Regions from separate parts of the Homo sapiens genome. Here region 2 is linked to region 1. A link means that fine-mapping ties the variant in region 1 to the expression of a gene that starts in the linked region. Tissue or cell type: non-classical monocytes. Region 1 holds a variant in brackets; the other region holds the start of a gene. All regions are shown on one strand. Distances are from middle to middle. Region 1 holds the start of ZNF649 (zinc finger protein 649). Region 2 holds the start of ZNF613 (zinc finger protein 613).

What was found. PIP is the estimated chance that this variant, and not a neighbour inherited with it, causes the effect.
Region 2: it holds the start of ZNF613, and the variant in region 1 is the best candidate, but not a certain one, in a credible set for the expression of ZNF613 in non-classical monocytes (Schmiedel 2018, PIP 0.63).

The regions. Positions count from the first base shown.
Region 1 is chr19:51,902,083-51,906,478 of GRCh38, forward strand. It overlaps ZNF649 (zinc finger protein 649), which reads right to left and starts at 2,935. Exons shown (of 5, transcript NM_023074.4): 1 at 2,832-2,935. RefSeq lists enhancers at 1,068-1,613, 2,704-3,248, 2,967-3,086, 3,577-4,201. The variant C/A (reference allele first, on the strand shown) is at 1,951.
Region 2 is chr19:51,925,432-51,929,827 of GRCh38, forward strand. It overlaps ZNF613 (zinc finger protein 613), which reads left to right and starts at 2,041. Exons shown (of 6, transcript NM_001031721.4): 1 at 2,041-2,109; 2 at 4,301-4,396. RefSeq lists enhancers at 1,061-1,824, 1,680-1,979.

The DNA.
Region 1 (4,396 bases):
AGAAATAGCGACAAAACACCATATTGAAAGCAGAAATCAGGCCCTCACCAGACACCAAACCTGCTGGTGCTTCGATCTTAGACTTCTCAGTCTCCAGAACTATAACAAATAAATTTCTGTTGTTTATAAATTATCCAGTCTCAGCTATCTTGTTATAGCAGCACCAACAAGGCTAAGACAGCATCCTATAATTTAATTCAGTCTGAGACTGTGTATCTAGATATAGTGTCAGACACCACAGATTAAGGGCTCAGTTCAAGCCTGCCCCCAACTTCAGACGCAAGTTGCAAGCAGCAGGTTGTCACCTGTACCTCTGATGGACCAGCTATAAATCAGGATTCACACGGCCTCCTCCTCAGGTTCGATTAATTTGCTGGATGGCTCACAGAACTCAGGAAAGCACTTAACATTTACTGGTTTATTTCAACTCTTTTCCTGTCTAGAAAAACGAAGTGCAGCTCACTGCCAGCGCTTATTTCATTTTACATAAACATGCTCTTTGAGGCTGCAGTAAATCTGATTTTCAATGTGAAAATAAAATATAAAAGCTGTTCTAGGAGTTATTTCTAAACAGAACTAACATCAGAATCATCTGAATCATCAGAATTCTCGATTTGGAATCATCAGAATTCTCGATTTGGTAAAAATCGGATCCATCCAGTGAGTCTTCAGCCAAGAACTGTTTGAGAATGATGTTAACATCACATGTAGGAATGCTACGTTTTCTAGGATTTGACATTTTCAGTGATCGAGAACTACTACATTTTGTAAATGGAAATACCACTACTAAAAACAGAATGCTATAAGTAGAATGATGTCTTTTGTTTCCCAAGGCGACCTACTAGAGCGATGTGAAAATAATAAAAGTGAGATCGTTCATGGCAAAGTTATCTCGGGGTAAATGCTCCAGCTGCAAGCACCAAAGGTGAGTATTCTCAGGGCAAATGGGAAAAGGAATAAAGGATATTACGAAGGATACAGATGAAGAGGCAGATGGAAGGGATAGCACAGAGCAAGGTTTGTAGCAAGGGGCGTGGGACTTCCATGCCCTCCACGGAAGCTTATTAGAGACTCAGTTCACCACCCTCAGGCACCTCCACATGCTCAAGAATCTGTAAGTTCCCCAGAAGTTCACCAGTCCTTTTGAGTTTTTACGCTGGTTTCATTATGTGGGCATACTTGATTAAAACACTAACCACTGGTGATCAACTCAACCTTCAACTTCCCTGTTGCCAGGCAGAGCTAAAATTTCCAACCCTCAAATGACATGGTTAGTTGCCCTGGCAACCAGCCTCCCCCGTCCTAAGGCCAGCCAGAAGCCCCCAGTCACCAGCCATCTCAATGCCACACAAAAAGGCACTGTTTACTGAAGAGGTTCCAAGGCTTTTGGGAGACATGTGCCAGGAAACAGGACAAAGATCGATTATACATTTCTTATAAATCGTAACAATCATAGCTAGGCGCGATGGCTCATGCCTATAATCCCAGCACTTTGGAAGGCCGAGGCGGGCAGATCACCTGAGGTCAGGAGTTCAAGACCAGCCTGGCCAACGTGGTGAAAGCCTGTCTCTACTAAAAATACAAAAATTAGCCGGGCGTGGTGGCGGGCGCCTGTAATCCCAGCCACTCGGGAGGCTGAGGCAGGACAGTCGCTAGAACCCAGGAGGCGGAGGTTGCAGTGAGCTGAGATCGCACCACTGCACTCCAGACTGGACAACAGAGCTAGATTCCGTCTGGGGGATAGGAGGAAACTTTGATCCCCAAATGCTCAAGGAGACTGATGCTTAAGCAAACTAAATATTGCCTGAGAACGACTCCATACTTCTATATTTGAGTCCTTGTGGATAAACTGCAACCTAGCTTAACAGACAAAATTGAAAACCGAACTTAATCGTATGCACCTGTAACAATAGCTGAGTGGTGGCCAGTCCCAGCGGCCATACTCATAGA[C/A]TGCTGAATGTTCCAACTGCGTTCAAATAAGGCAAACGCCGAATGGTAACCAATCTCACTGTTTCTGGACCTCGCTTCCGATTCCTGTATGTCACTTTACCTTTTTTGTCTATAAATTTGTTCTGACCACGAGGCACCCCTGGAGTCTCTGTTAATCTGCTGTGATTCTGGGGGCTGCCCAATTCGCGAATCGTTCATTGCTCAAGGAAACTCCTGTAAATTTAATTCGGCTTCAATTTTTCTTTTATCACTGATTTGAGTAATAATAAAACTCCGGTCTCCCCGCACAGCCGGCTCTGCATGAATTGCTCTTTCTCCATTGCAATTTCCCTGTCTTAACAAGTCGGCTCTGTCTAGGCAGCCGGCAAGGGTGGGCGGTTATAGTTTCACAACTCAACCCCAGCCAGGGGCCTGGGCTTGTAAAATACCAGATTTTACAAGCCTCTGAGCCCCACATGCCTGGGCCTCCCCGAAACACTTAACACACATCCCCGATTCACCCCAAAACCTACACCACACACCCTCGTACGCTGCCCAGCACCCCGGCTTCATCACCGACTTTAAACTGCAGCATTTGGAGTGATAATAATGGCGTCGGTGATAAAGCCGGCGTGCTGGGCAGCGTCCCCCTAGAGTTCTCCATCCAGTGATCCAGAGGCCTACTAACAGAGTGACCCTCAGAGACCCCAAACTCTGACGCCGAGTCTCAGTCGCTGAACTCGACAGACCTTTAACGCCCGACCACAAGAACTCTCCCACGCCGGACCGCAAAGGCACCCCAACCCAAAGGCTCCACCGCCCAGGCCGCCAGCTCTCCCCACAGGCTCCTCAGAAGCTCCCTACCCCTTTAACCTACTCCACGGAGAGACCCAAACACTCACCTGATTTTCTTCTGGCTACACCTAAATTCCCTGAATGCTTCCTTTCCTGGCCCTTAAACCCCGGCACTGGCCTATGGCGGCGGACGAGGGCGCGAGTCAATTCTGCCGCGCTAGGACGATGGGACATGGGCTTCTCTTCGAGGAGGTAACATGTCCGCGCCCTGAGCCACGGCTCTCTGGGCGCGGCCATCTTGGTAGATCTGCCGTACAGAAGGGAAACAGTTGTTCTTGTGTCATTAAACCGGGATGACTCTCCTGAAAGCAAAAATTTGAGGCGCAGGAGCATTTTCTAGAGTTTATCTGAACAAACAGCAATTCATGAATTAGGAAGCATCAAACCAAAAGAAGTCTCGCGCTTCTATGCTTAAAGCATTAGACACAAGTATTCACAGGGTGAGTGAAGGAGTAAAACAAAGAAATTATTTGATTAGTTACAATTATAAAAATGCATTTTTTTAAATTTGCCTTGGAAAGTCCCTAATGACATAATAGCATGTGAGTTGCCTACTTTTGATCGGTTGAGATTGAGTTTTGTCCTTCCCTAACACAAGCATTTACCAGAAATGACTCAAGTGAATTGTTGCTTATGTTTGCAGGTTAAGCAAGGTTAAGGCTGTTTTTAAGGCCTACTGGGTTTTGTTTGCTCAGGAGTTTTTGAATTCTGGTCTGCATTTTAATTTTGCTTTGACACAGGAGACAGTGAAATGGCACTGATGTGTTCCCTCTCCTGACACCTCAACCCCTGCACTGTGAGGTTGGAGCACTAACAACAGTGCACTGTGGGGAAAAGAAAGAGAGATCAGACTGTTACTGTGTCTATGTAGAAAGAAGTAGACATAAGAGACTCCATTTTGTTCCGTACTAAGAAAAATTCTTCTGCCTTGAGATGCTGTTAATCTGTAACCCTACCCCCAACCCTGTTCTCACAGAGACGTGTGCTGTGTTGACTCAAGGTTTAATGGATTTAGGGCTATGCAGGATGTGCTTTGTTAAACAAATGCTTGAAGGCAGTATGCTTGTTAAAAGTCATCACCACTCTCTAATCTCAAGTACCCAGGGACACAATACACTGCGGAAGGCCACAGGGACCTCTGCCCCAGAAAGCCAGGTATTATCCAAGGTTTCTCCCCATGTGATAGTCTGAAATATGGCCTCGTGGGAAGGGAAAGACCTGACCATCCCTCAGCCCGACACCCGTAAAGGGTCTGTGCTGAGGAGGATTAGTATAAGAGGAAGGAAGGCCTCTTGCAGTTGAGACAAGAGGAAGGCATCTGTCTCCTGCTCGTCCCTGGGCAATGGAATGTCTCGGTATAAAACCCGATTGTATGTTCCATCTACTGAGATAGGAGAAAATCGCCTTAGGGCTGGAGGTGAGACAAGCTGGCGGCAATACTGCTCTTTAATGCACCGAGACGTTTATGTATGTGCATATCAAAGCACAGCACCTTCTTCTTAAGCTTGTTTATGACACAGAGACATTTGTTCACATGTTTTCCTGCTGACACTCTCCCCACTATTATCCTATTGTCCTGCCACATCCCCCTCTCCGAGATGGTAGAGATAAT
Region 2 (4,396 bases), 23 kb after region 1:
AAAACCCAATTGTACATTCTATTTACTGAGATAGGAGAAAACTGCCTTATGGCTGGAGGTGAGACATGCTGGCAGCAATACTGCTCTATACTACACTGAGATGCTTGTGTAAAGTCAAACATAAATCTGGCCTACGTGCACATCAAGGCACAGCACCTTTCCTTATTTATGACACAGAGAACTTTGTTCACATATTTTCCTGCTGACCCTCTCCCCACCATTACCCTATAGTCCTGCCACATCCCCCTCACCGAGATGGTAGAGATAGTGATCAATGAATACTGAGGAAACTCAGAGACCAGTGCTGGCAGGAGTCCTTCGTATGCTGAGTGCTGGTCCCCTGGGCCCACTGTTCTTTCTCTATACTTTGTCAGTGTGTCTTATTTCTTTTCTCAGTCTCTCATCCCACCAGATGAGAAATACCCACAGGTGTGGAGAGGCTGGCCCCCTTCATAAGGTTGTTGAGATTTATCTATGTTGGTGCATGCATCTATGATTTGTTTTTTATTATTGTTCAGTAGTATTCCAGGGTATGATTACACTGCAATTTGCTTATACATTCATGTACTGATGGACACTTGGACTGTTTCCTGTTCAGGGTATTATGCATAAAGGTGCTAAGAACATTCTTGTGAGTCTTTGTGAGGACATATCATTTCATTACTGTTGTATAAGTATCTAGGAGTGGAATTCCTGAGTCATAAGATTCTTGCTTTTATTTTGCAATTCTCCTAAGGAGTCATATAGTTCTGTAAAGCTTTTCACTCTTCACAGATTTGATATTTTAAGTAACACGGTATGTTTCTGAAATGGAGTTTGCATTTTGGGGCATTTTCTATAGATGTATCATGAAGGACACGTGAAAACTCTGTTATAAATATAAACACTCCACTGCATGCAGGAATTTCCTTCTCATTCTTCCAATGGAATTGTCTTAATTTAGGTTGGATCAGAATTAGAATTTACGTTATGATGACTATGTAAATAATATTTATAGGTCAGTCAGGTAGTATCCTATGATTACTTTTCTTGCACAACTTTTTTTTTTCTTTTTTCTTTTTTTCCTCATGAAGGGGTTGCCAAGGCTGTGTAGTGCAGTGGCTATTGATAGGTGCGATCATAGCTCACTGCAGCCTGGAACTCCTGGGCTCAAGCGATCTTCCTGCCTTGGTCTCCCCAGTAGCTGGGACTACACGTGTGCGCCATCGCGCCCGGGCTTGCACAACTTTTCATTCTCCCAGAGTCGCCTTATTTATTCCTTCCAGAATTTTAGGCACTTGGTTCTCCGAAAGCCCCGACGTTAAGATTGACTCCACCTACAGCAGAGGGAAGGCCCTTCTTCTCTCTTAAGGAAAATTCCCGCCTCCCGCATTGGATTCCTTTTCCGGTTGGCTGGTGGCTGCTCTCTTTACCTGCACTGGGCGGTGACCGTGTCCCTCAAATGTAAATGAGGTTCCAGGGGTCGCTGTTTTTTCACTTTCCGTTGACGGGGTGAACAATATCCTCGTACCTCGATTGCCTCTCCACACCCTTTTGGTCCTCAAAAATCTTCCTCTTGTCCTCCACATGTAGCTAGATGCGTTTTCGCGGTATATGACTCAGGGTGCGATTGCTCTTTTTCCTCTGTGGAGAAAGCGTTTTCACTTGTACGGACACCTAAGTGTTAAGATGGCCGCGCCCATTGTGTCATTCCCGTCATTCTTTGTGCAAAGCGGATGACTTTTCTCCCCAGCCCGCTAAGGTGCACGTAGCCATACCATGTTTGTCTTGGCTAAGCTCGACCCTCTGAAAATAAATGAAACTTGGGCGCAGGATTTAGGTGCCAAAATATGGAGTTCTTCACCGTCCCGCGCTATCCCTGAATACTTGGGCAGAAAAGGTCCACTTTACCTTCCGTACGTGCAGGATTCAAAGATGGCTGCCTCCAGTATCCGTGACGAGAGGACGCGAACTTACTACCTCCCAGTCGTCCGTGCTCCGTACACCTGCAACTTCAGACCTTCCTCGGCCGCCGTAGGCCGGCTTGGAGGCTGGGGGAGGGCCCAGAAGTGGAATAATTCAGGAAAGTGCAGGTTCTGGGAAGTCTCGGTGGGTTCCCCGCAAAATCAGGTCTGTGTGTGGGTCTGTCTGTCAGGATGAGGGGAGGAGGGTGTCTGTGGGCGTCCGTTTAGTGCGGAGCCGTGGAGTTTGTGGGGGAAGCGGGAGCAAGTGGGAGTCGGGGTATTGGGGTTGGGGCGTCTCCGGAGTCAGCCCTGAGGGATCCCAGTGGTCGGTGGTCAGAGTCTGTCCAGAGCAACACTTGGAAGTCCGTGATCAGGGTTTGGTGCCTTTGCGGGTCACTCTGTAGGGCTCGGTGATTGAGGACTGGAGTGAGGAGTGGTTTTTGTCAAGGAAAACTGTGTCTGCTTCGGATTCGGGGTTTTATTTTTTATTTTTGAGACAGGGTCTCGCTCTGTCACACAGGCTTGAGTGCAGTGGCGCAATCGTGGCTCACTGCAGCCTCCATCTCCCGGGGCTCAGGTGATTTTCCCACCTCAGCTTTCCCGAGTAGCTGGGACTACAGGTGAGCGCCACCACGCTATCTATCTATCTATCTATCTATCTAATCTGTCTAATCTAATCTATCTATCTATCTATCTATCTATCTAATTTATCTATCTAATCTATCTGTTTATTGCAGAGACGGGGGTCTCACTATGTTGCCCAGGCTGGTCTCCAACTCCTGGCCTCAAACGATCCTCTCACCTTGGCCTCCCAAAGTGCTGGGATTACGGGCGTGAGCCTTCGCTCCAGGCTGTAATCAGGATTTAATATGCGACTCAGTGAGGAGGAGCCCGGGTTCATGTGAACCTAGGTGTGTGGTCCAGGTTTTTGGATTAATCTAAGGGGGTGTGACCATGTTAGGGAGGTCTAGATGTGACAGTCGTGGAGAAGCTTGTGAAGGCTGAAGCCTTGGCAGCCAGGGCATCCTGATTGGTGTGTGTGTTCAGGTCCAACGGTACATTCCCTCTCAGTCCCTTTTAAGTTTCTCTGCAAGGACTGGTTTACAAATCTCATTTGACTTCTCACATCTCTCCTTTCTCTCATCCTGGTAAATAGGAAAGCTTTGGGGAAGATCAAAGATTAATCAAATCTAAAATGGTAAGGTGGCCTGGCGCGGTGGCTCACGCCTATATTCCCAGCATTTGGGAGGCCAAAGTGGGCGAATTGCTCGAGCCTAGAAGTTGGAGATCAGCCTGAACAACATAGCCTGTCTCTCCAAAAAATACAAATATTAACTGGGTGTGGTAACACACGCCTGTAGTCTCAGCTACTCGGGAGGCTGAGGTGGGACGATCACGTGACCCCGGGAGTTCTAGGCTGCAGTGAACTATGATTGAGCACTGCACTCCAGCCTGGGCAACAGAGTGAGACCCTGCCTCAAAAAAAAAAAAAAAAGAAAAGAAAAGGAGAAAAGAAAAAGGAAAAAACAAAACGAAGAAAATGATAAGGTTTCTATTAAAGATTTTCGTTCTTCTTCCTCAGGTTTACTGTGTGAATGTGTGTATACACACACGTAAATATTTTCTTTCAGGTTCTGACACAAGTAAAACATCTCTCTTATCCCAAAATGTGTTCCCCAGTAATGACTTTTGATAAGATTTTTGTATATTTCAATTTCAGTTTTCTATGCTTGATTTTCACAATGCAGATAAGCTGCTGAAACATTGGTATAATTTGCCGTATTTAATTTTACATTATGAACGTTCTTATAGTAAACATATCATCCATGTTTTTGTTTAAAAATTTTTTTTTAAGATTTCTGTAATAGTATACCATCAAGAGGCAAAACTGCACCACTGTGACTTGAATCACTAAGTGTATGGATATATTTAGATAGAATTTTAAGACTTAAAAAGTTCACTTATCACTTTTAAGAATGGGTTACAATTCTATGTTTACCCAAACATGTTTCTCCCTGACCCTCATCAGCACCTTAGTTTTTAATTTTTTTGCAATTGTAAATGGTGTGTTTTTAATTTTGACCTTTCTGTTCTCTTCTAATTTACTCTTACATAGAAGAGCAATTAGTTTAGAAAATATTTACATTGTTTTTGGTCACCTTACTGAACAAACTTCCCTGTTCTCCAGGTTACAAAAACTTTCAAACATATAACATGATTTAAAGAACTTTACAATTGAATACCTGTTTGCCTACCATCTGGATTTTATCATCATTTTATTGTGTTTCTTTTATTACATATCTATCTATATATCATCCTTCTACTCATCATTAATCCACCTTTTTTTCTTTTTATAGAGATGGCATCTCACTATGTTGCCCAGGCTGATCTTGAACTCCTGACCTCAAGTGATCCTCTCTCCTTGGCCTCCTAAAGTGCTGGGATTCCAGGTG